Regions from separate parts of the Homo sapiens genome. Here region 2 is reported to be linked to region 1. The links are microRNA targets in miRTarBase. Many come from high-throughput screens and were not tested one by one. Region 1 holds a microRNA gene; the other region holds the end of a gene's coding sequence.
What was found. The annotated mature microRNA hsa-miR-4745-5p reads UGAGUGGGGCUCCCGGGACGGCG and lies in region 1 at 2,679-2,701, opposite strand. An mRNA with a match to its seed (bases 2 to 7 or 8) in the 3' UTR can be bound and repressed. Matches are read on the target gene's strand: a 7mer-m8 pairs with bases 2 to 8, a 7mer-A1 pairs with bases 2 to 7 and ends in A, and an 8mer does both.

Region 1 (4,000 bases):
AAGCAACAACAGGAAGCAGAAGTACCGTGCAGTCAGTTGGCAAAGAAATTCCGGATCAGGGCAAGAAAAAAAATAGGGAAAGGGGAAGGGGAGAAAAGAAAAAAAGTAGCAAAAAAACACAGGTCAGTAAATACATAAGAATCAGGTAGTGTTCTATCAGTCACACTCCACACACATTCCAGTTACAGGTTTACCTCGACGGGCACACGGTAAGAGAAGCACCTTCACTCACATGCCGGCAGAGACAGCGCTGCTGGAGGGGCTCCCAGAAGCCGATCCCAACCACGCCCCCCAGGAGCGCGCGTGCAGCTCCGCTCGCGGCCACCTCAGCCAAGCCCTGCAGCAGCGCTGTCTCCCGCAGCTGTGGCACAAGTCAGTCTCTAAGGACGATTACAGGCGTGAAGGGAGATCGAGTCTGTTAGTGCACGGCCTCGCTCAGGAGGAGCTGGAGGGACAGCACCCGGCTCGTGGTAAGAGGCACAGGCAGGGAGTGCGTCCTGGGCCCCCGCGAGGGAGGGCCAGGCTGGGCACCGCCTTGAGGAAGTCACAGGAGTTGCCGGGAAACAGAACAGCCTGAAATGCTGATTCCAGGAGGATCCCATCCATCAAGAGTTACATATTTTGGGCCTCTTGTTTCACCCAAGCTCTCCCCGAGGGGAATTTAACCATTCTGGGAAATAACGGATCCACCAGTTAAGTGACAGGCTCTCGAGCCACAGGGGCTGCCCACACCCCGCCGCGCTAACCCTGTGTGTCCCGCTGACCAGCAGGGCGGCCTGCTGGGGCTCTGAACTGCGCGCCCTGCTCAGCTCCAAGTAATTTTTAGATTGCCTTTGGGTAACCAAAAAATAATTCATTCTGCGTATCATGCAAGAGAAAACGCGAACCAAGATGTGAATTCAGGAAAAGAGGAAAACTCAAGCCATCTTGGAAAAGGAGGGTCTCAGCGCTGCAGCAGAGGGGCTGCCAGGGCAGAGGCGCAGACACAGCGAGGGGCGGCGCTGCTCCGGGACCCGAGCCCGAGCACAACATCCCCTGCTCGCTCTTCCGGGAGGAACGGCGGCGCGGAGGAAAAGCCCACGTACCTCTGGGTTGAGGTTGCTGACCAGCAATACAGAATTTCCTGCCCCCGCCAGGCCCGGGATGGCGATCCGACCTGCCGCCGCAGCTGCCGCCGCCGCCGAGGGGATGGCCAGGGGGGCCAGGGCGCCGTGGACGTTCGGAACGGAAAGGCCTGGAAAAGCAGGAGGTGAGATGAGCGGCGGCGCCCCCGACTCCACCGCAGAGTGGGAGAGGCCGACGCTCCCCGTCCTCATGCACCGAGGAGCCGAGCCGCGCGGGAGGCGGCCCTGGCTCTGGCCCTACCCTGGGTGCCTGTGGGGTCGTCCGACCCCCGCACAGCCACCCGCCGGCTCCTGCACCAGCGCCCGCCTCTCCTCACAGCACGGGCCGGGCCGGGCCTGGGCTCATCTGCATGCGCCCCGCCCACAGCACAGAAAAGCTCCGGCTCCGCCAGCACAGACACGGGGCCCTCGGCAAGCAGGGCCCGTCCCGGGACCACCGCGCATGCGCGCCCATGCCTCCATGCAGACGAGGCGGCCGCCGGGCGGCACGCGCTGCTCCGTCCACGGCCAGCACTGGGGCGGCCGGGCCCCGGTCCCAGAAGGGAAGCGGGAGGACGGCCACGCACACACGTCCCGCCGCCGGTCATGCTGCTCAGCCTCGGGCCGCGCGCTTACCAGGCCACTCAAATTCAACTACTAGAGACATCCCTCCAACCACTGGCGGTCCTCGCGCTCGCCCGGAGGTGCTTGAAGGGAACCAGACCACAAAGACTGTGCGATTAGCGGCTTCTGGCTGGCGCCGTCCACACGTGGGCCTCCACAGCCCTGTCCTACCACTGCCCTGGCCAAGCCTGCTCTGTGGACGTGGCGTCCCCTCTCCCGGGAAGGGCCCCTGACCTGGCACTCGAGTGCCCAGTCCGCCCAGGCTGCCGCCGTGGATGCGGAGCTGCCTGGGAAGGTGGTGTGGGCATGCAGTCGCTGGGGAACCAAGACCAAGCGTTTGAATACCTGCAGCTTGAGGAATGGCAAAGGTGGGAGGGAAACCAGCTCCTGCATACGGAGAGGCTGAGATTATACCAGGTGCACCTAGAAATAAATGAGACACTAATCATCGCACCCACAACCTCCACCGCGAGCGGGCGCTGTGCTGCGGGATGGGCCCCAACCCGGCCGGCGGGCGGCCCCGGCAGAGCCTTCGCGGGCAGATCCGCTGCTCCAGGGGGGGCCGTGGTCCCGACGTGGGGGACACTGGACCGTGCTGTGCTGGCCGTGCAGAGAGCAGCAGGTGCATCACCCTGGTGCAGGGCCGGGCCCGTGCCGCCGGGGCTCCGGACTGAGCGGCCCTAATAGACCACTCTGCACACTGGCGCCGCGTCGGGCAGCCTCTTACCGAAGGCCGCGGCCATGGTCTGGTCCAGCGAGGGCTGGCTGTCCCCGGAAGGCAGGTCTGGGCGTGTGTAGTCACGGCTCTTGTCATTGTTGTACTTGACGTTGAGGCTGGTGAGCTTGGAAAAGTCGATGCGCAGCGTGCAGCAGGCGTTGTAGATGTTCTGCCCGTCCAGCGACTGAGGGGAGAGGGACCGTGAGACGTCGCCGGGCCAGGGCCAGGGCGGGCGCCGTCCCGGGAGCCCCACTCACCAGCTTGGCGTGCTGGGCGCTCACGGGGTCCGCATACTGCAGCAGGGCCTGGAACTGGTTGTTCTTGGTGAAGGTGATGATCTTCAACACTGTGCCGAACTTGGAGAAAATCTGCAGGTCCCGGGCCACAGCATGAGCTCCTGCCCGGTGCCCACCAGCCCTGCCAGGCCCCTCCCGTGTGCCTGTGCCCACAGCAATAGCAGCCGACCTGCCCTGGCGGTGATGGGACCACCTCACCTGGTGCAGCACATCCAGGGTCACAGGGTAGAAGAGGTTCTCCACGATGATCCTGAGCACGGGGCTCTGCCCGGCCATCGCCATCCCTGCGTCCACGGCCGCCGCCGAGGCAGCCAAGGCCAGGTTCCCCGACTGGACCGAGTTCACCGCCTGCAGGGCCGCCTGGGCCCGCTGTGGGAGGCACAGCCGTGAGTCCCCGGCCCCTGCGGCTGGGCCCACCCCCGAGGTCCCCGGGCTGCTGGGGTCCGCCGCGGGGCCACGCACCGCCTGGTTGGGAGAGCTGTCGGTCTTCAGCTCCTTGTGGTTGGAGAACTGGATGTAGATGGGCTGGCCGCGCAGCACAGGGGTCACCGAGGTGTAGTAGTTCACCATGGTGTTGGCAGCCTCCTCCGTGTTCATCTCGATGAAGGCCTGTTGGGGAGGCAGTGAGCGCTGGGCCCTCCTCGTCCCCGCCTGCACGGTGTGAGCACCCCGGAGAAACGCGGCTCAGGTACCTGGTTTTTCCCCTTCAGCATCAGGAGGTTGGTGACCTTCCCAAAGGGCAGCCCCAGGGAGATGACTTCCCCCTCCGTGACGTCGATGGGGAGCTTCCGGATGTGGATCACTCTAGAGGGGACGCCTGCACTTCGGCTGTCACCTTTGAACTTCTTGCTGTCATTTCCGTTTGCTGAAAAGGGGGTGCCATGAGATGCAGGCACCAACTCGCAGGAGCCCACAGAGGAAGGTCCCTGCTATCCCCCTAGAGCCCTGCCTGCTACGGAGACCAACCCTGAGCCCCAGGAGGGTGCATGTGAACCAGCAGCGCGAGAGGCCAAGACCTGCACAGTCAGGACCCCTGCTCCCGACAGCTCCTGACAACCCGCCCACAGGTCCAAGTGCCAGCCTGGACCATCCATCCAGCGCCTCCCTGGAAATTCTCTGCAGCGAGAACTTGGACCTGGGTCTGTAGCGTGGACCATGGGCCCCTGCAGTTGGAGATGGAAAGTAGAGTCCCAGAACAAGAACGTAACGTTGTTCCAGGGAAAGACACCCACGGGTCTTGCCCTGGGCCGAGTCCCGGC
Region 2 (4,516 bases), not on the chromosome of region 1:
TGTAAATGCTATTGTTCAAACAGGGATGCTTCAAATGTCATTGGAGAGCATTCTCTGAAAGCTGTGGACCCCCATTTATGCTTGGTTTTCTCTCGCAGTTCACTTTAGAATACTCCTTCCCTTTTTCCAACTTGGTAATTGTTTATGGAAATGGGTGAACACGCTCTGAAGTTCTGACAGACCTACGTGAGAGCCGTGCTCTTCTTTTTGTTTGTATGACCCCCAAATTCAGCCTTGTTTTGGAACTACCGTTCACTTGTAAATCTGCTTTGTACTATACAGTTTTACAATCTGGCCGCCTCCTCATCTTGCCAACTTGTAACCTTCTCTCCAGAGCTGGTTCAGACACTATCATCTGCCATTCTTACATGTGAAACCATTAGAGAAGCCTAATGATCCTTTCTAAATCACACTGGAAATGATTCGTTTTCAAGCTGCCTCTCTTTAAGGCAGGAAGGCACATTTGAAATACTTGCTGCTCATTTTATGAAATGAGTTACAGCTCAGGTCAGGGGGTCTTCGCCTACTTGGTTGGCTTGCTTTGTGAAGGTCATTGTTTGTGTTCTTGGATGTTGATTAGAAAATTAATAGGAAAAATGCATTTAGAAACCAAAAGGCAGAAATGAGCTTTTCTCCTGTTCTTTCCTTTTTCTCACCCAGGGGAGAGACCATTCTAACACAGGTACCGTCCAGACAGTGCCTCTGAGAAAGGGAACCTAAAGGCGTGTTTCCGACGCACCCCAGGTCCCCGTAACGGCCATTAGCAGTACCCTCACGATGTCCCAGCAGCCTCCCACCTGTGACCTGGCCGCTCCATGGAAGAACAGCCGGGGAACTCCTGAGCAGACACCTCACATCCCGAGCCGCTGCGCTGGAGTGGAAACTGAAGGCAGATGCCTCTCCTTGTTAAACGTTCAGAAATAAATGAAGATGCTATATTCTAGAAATACATGTAGATACTATATACGCATTTACGTGCTCATCGTCCATAGTCCCATATTTTCTTATAATAAACAGTAGTACTGGCAGGCACAGTAGGGGCACAAGGCATCTGTCTTATTCAAGACAAGTTTGAGACACTGGAAAAAAAGATACTTGTTGTGTGTGTTGGACAGAGTGGCGAGGCTGAGCACTGTCACAGGGGCCTCCCATGTTAAGAGGGACTGTGGGGATGATGTCAGAACAAGACGTGGTGGATTTGAGGTTGATCGAGTATTAATACTACTGCCTCTCCTTGTCTTAGTGGGTATTTAAAATAGTAAATAAGAGAGAGGAAGGAGGTGACGTTCAGGTGCTGTGGGAAGCAGGCTTGGCGGAGGGGTATGATGATGAGACCCTCATTGTTCACTGGCTCCATCGCACTCCTCCCTGGGGCCGTGTGCCTGTTCCATTCTTCCCACCATTCGAACTGAGCGAATCTGGCAAAGGAGACACGTCTGTGGGAATGCGTAGATTCCGCCTCGGAAGAGAGCTAGCGCAACACTAAGAAAAGCAGGCTTCTTGTTTATTCTCAGGACCTTTTTGTAACAGGGCTACATTCTGCAAACTGCTTACAAAGGAAGACTATACGTCTTAACAAATTATTTAGCCACTGAGTCCTCCCGATTCGGACCTGTTTTAGTAATGGCAGAAGAATCCCTGAGCAGGTTCAGGTGCCCTAGATGACTAGGGTGCTGAGCTCTGGCGCCTTCTGTCCCCACTCTTTGCCTCCCCGCCCCTTCCCTGAGCCACCCCAGCAAGTGGGTGTCTTTTCTCCCTGGGCCTGGTGACCTCCACAGGATGAGTGACTTTGTTCATAAAGGGTGGGGATCACCAGCCCCTTGGGTGGGGGACGGCTTCATATACCTCTTCCTCAGTAATGCAAATGCGAGTTTTTGTGGTGGGGGTTAAGGCCCATAACAAAGGATCTTAAACCATGCAGTGTACGCAATTGAAATGGTATTCCACAGATATAAATATTTTCTTTTCCCATTGCCGTGACACTATGTGTGATGGTAATATTTCTGAGAGTTTCAGATTTTTGCACATATGATTTTATGCATTATCAAAAGTTACTGCTGCCTTGAATGAAAATGTTCTGTGAAATTTTTTGCAAAAGCTTTACTAGGTTTTTTTTTAATTGTGAAATTTTGTAAAGGCAGGAAATGGATTAAAACGAGCATGCTAAATATATTTTTCAAAAAAGCAATAATTTTACATGTACAGAAATTATCCTAACCTTTAATACTGGCGAGAGCAACAGTTTACTTAATACGGTAATGGACTAGTGCAGTTTTTGTAGACAGTGGGCTTCTGATACAAAGTCTTGTTTAAACACAGACACACACACACACAAACACACACACACACCCTAAAGTGTGGGTTTCCTGTTCTAATGATTTGTTGAATATTATTATATTATTATTATTATTATTATTATTATTGTTATTGTTATTAGTAATGTTTGGTTCTGGATTCTACTTGTTACTGAGTTTAAATTACTTGACGGTTCAGGTTACTTTGCAACACTTTCAAACGATGCAATGTAACTGGCTAGCTTATATATATATATATATATATATATATATATATTTTTTTTTTTTTTTACTTATTTTTTTCTGATATTCTTACACCAGATATGTACGAAAATGATCTGTCCTGTTGGTGTAATTAGGAATGTCCATGCAGATACAGTTAAACAACTGTAATTGACTGTTCTGTAAAGTTATTTTGGGCAAAGTTGCGGAGACACATTCCTCTGTCCACCTAAGAAATCAGAAGACTCTTCTGTTGATTTATGTTTAATCATTTCAGTAGTTTCCCCACAGTGATCATTTCTGCATTTTCTGGCTTTTGTTTTCTTGGCTGAAAGTGAATGGTGACTGTTAGGAATGTCAGGGACTAGTGACCCAGTCCTGTTTCTCTGTGTTTTAGTTATTAAAAAGAAATTCTGTACCCAAAGTGACACGAAAGTGTAGTCTACATTTTTACTGTTTCAGAAGCGGCATGGAAAAGTGCAGTTGGCCTTTGGAGCTGGAAGTGTCTTGCTGGTGAGGCTCCATCCTGGAGGCTCTGGTGGGGAGTGGGCTGGCGCTGGGGCCCTGCCGGCCGCGTGCTGGATCCTTCCTGGCTTGCAGGAGAGCAGGCGTGGAGGACAGTCAGCTTGCGGGGCCGCGCAGGGTGCACAGAGTGCAGGAGGAAGGTTTTCACCCAGTTAAACAGACTGGGGAGCCCCCCCAAGAACGCCATCCCTTGAGGCCAGCTGTGGGCAGGCCTGGATGTGTGGTCCCTTCCTTCCACCCATCGTCAGTATTGTGTTGGTTTGTTAATTTGTTGATTTGGTCATAGTATTTAATATGATTTGTGTTTCCTTATTTATTTAGCCACCGTTTTGATTGCCTTTTTTTTTCCGAATGGTAATTTCTGCATGATACACTTCTGTACGTTGTCTTCTGACTGTTACAGACTTTCTACTACCTCTCCCGATCTGCTGTTTCCTTGTTTCTTAACAGGATTTTTTACAGTGTTGCGTCTAATGTAACTTAGACAATAAAGGGTTTGGTTGTCTACACTGCAGCTTCTCGGTGTCTCTCCCCTGCTTTCCGCTCGCTGCTTCCCGCTCTGCCCCTGCTGGGGCCTGGCTGCACCCTGGCCTGCCTTCCTATACTCTCCTGTTTCCTGCTCATATCTCTTCCTCATTTTTGCGTTCAAATAACACACAGCTAATGAGCTTCTAAAAATCTTTTCAGGTTGTTCACTTGTATTCCTTAATTTGAAGAATGAATATTTAAATTCTCTCAAAAGTCAGATATTGAGGATCTTCTCTGGGAAATTGGCCACTGTACCTGCCCACCTTTCTGCCTGGTTCCCTGGAAGGTCTTATTGTCATCTTAGACGGACAGATTTCATTCTCAGCACCATACAGATTTGGCTTCAAAGCCAGGTGAATTTTGCCTTTGAGGCTCTGAAAAGTATTAAGTGTTTTAAGAGGTCCCCCAATATTTACTTATTTATTTTTTAAACCAAGAAAGACACTGGTTCCCTGAAAAGCAGGTGCTTCAGGAAGTAGCAATTGGGAGTTGCATACAGTTACTTCGTCAGAGAAAGGAGCGCCCAGTATGACAGGCCCCCACCCCTGATCCGGCCACTGTGCACAGGTCGCTGAGGGTGTGAGAACACCTCTGCAGGGGCTCCGGCACATGTGGGTTTCATCGTCTCACACTCCTTCAGGCTGCAGGGGTTGAGTGCAGAAAGGGCAAGCTTCATCTCCATGGTGCCTCTCCAGGCTGGCAACTCTGGTCGGCCTCTGTTCTTTGGACAGAGAGGGTGTAGGTTACAGGGTCAGTAGGGATGCTTTCTGGATCAAAGAAAGTGGGTGTAGTGCTTAGTCTGTTGTGTGGAAGAGGGCACCTCCTGGGCTTTCGTGGCTGGAGACTGTCTACCAACATTCCTTCCTTCAAACTAGACAAACCCTCCTCTGCCACCCCCAGCAAATTCTCAGAGGTTTCCAAGCTGTAGAAAAAGGAAGGAAGGAAGG

Region 2: the mRNA of ZNF516 is a reported target of hsa-miR-4745-5p. Seed matches in the 3' UTR shown: 7mer-m8 at 1,696-1,702.

Annotation. Positions count from the first base shown.
Region 1 is chr19:803,642-807,641 of GRCh38, reverse strand. MIR4745 (microRNA 4745) reads right to left here and starts at 2,702; the gene lies at 2,641-2,702. PTBP1 (polypyrimidine tract binding protein 1) reads right to left here. Exons shown (of 15, transcript NM_002819.5): 4 at 3,434-3,606; 5 at 3,204-3,350; 6 at 2,940-3,110; 7 at 2,703-2,813; 8 at 2,455-2,629; 9 at 2,073-2,150; 10 at 1,086-1,234. RefSeq lists an enhancer at 3,885-4,000.
Region 2 is chr18:76,358,702-76,363,217 of GRCh38, reverse strand. ZNF516 (zinc finger protein 516) reads left to right here. Exons shown (of 7, transcript NM_014643.4): 7 at 661-4,516. The coding sequence ends at 720. Among named protein-coding and RNA genes, the nearest start is that of ZNF516-AS1, 130 kb to the left of the region's middle. RefSeq lists enhancers at 339-838, 839-1,340.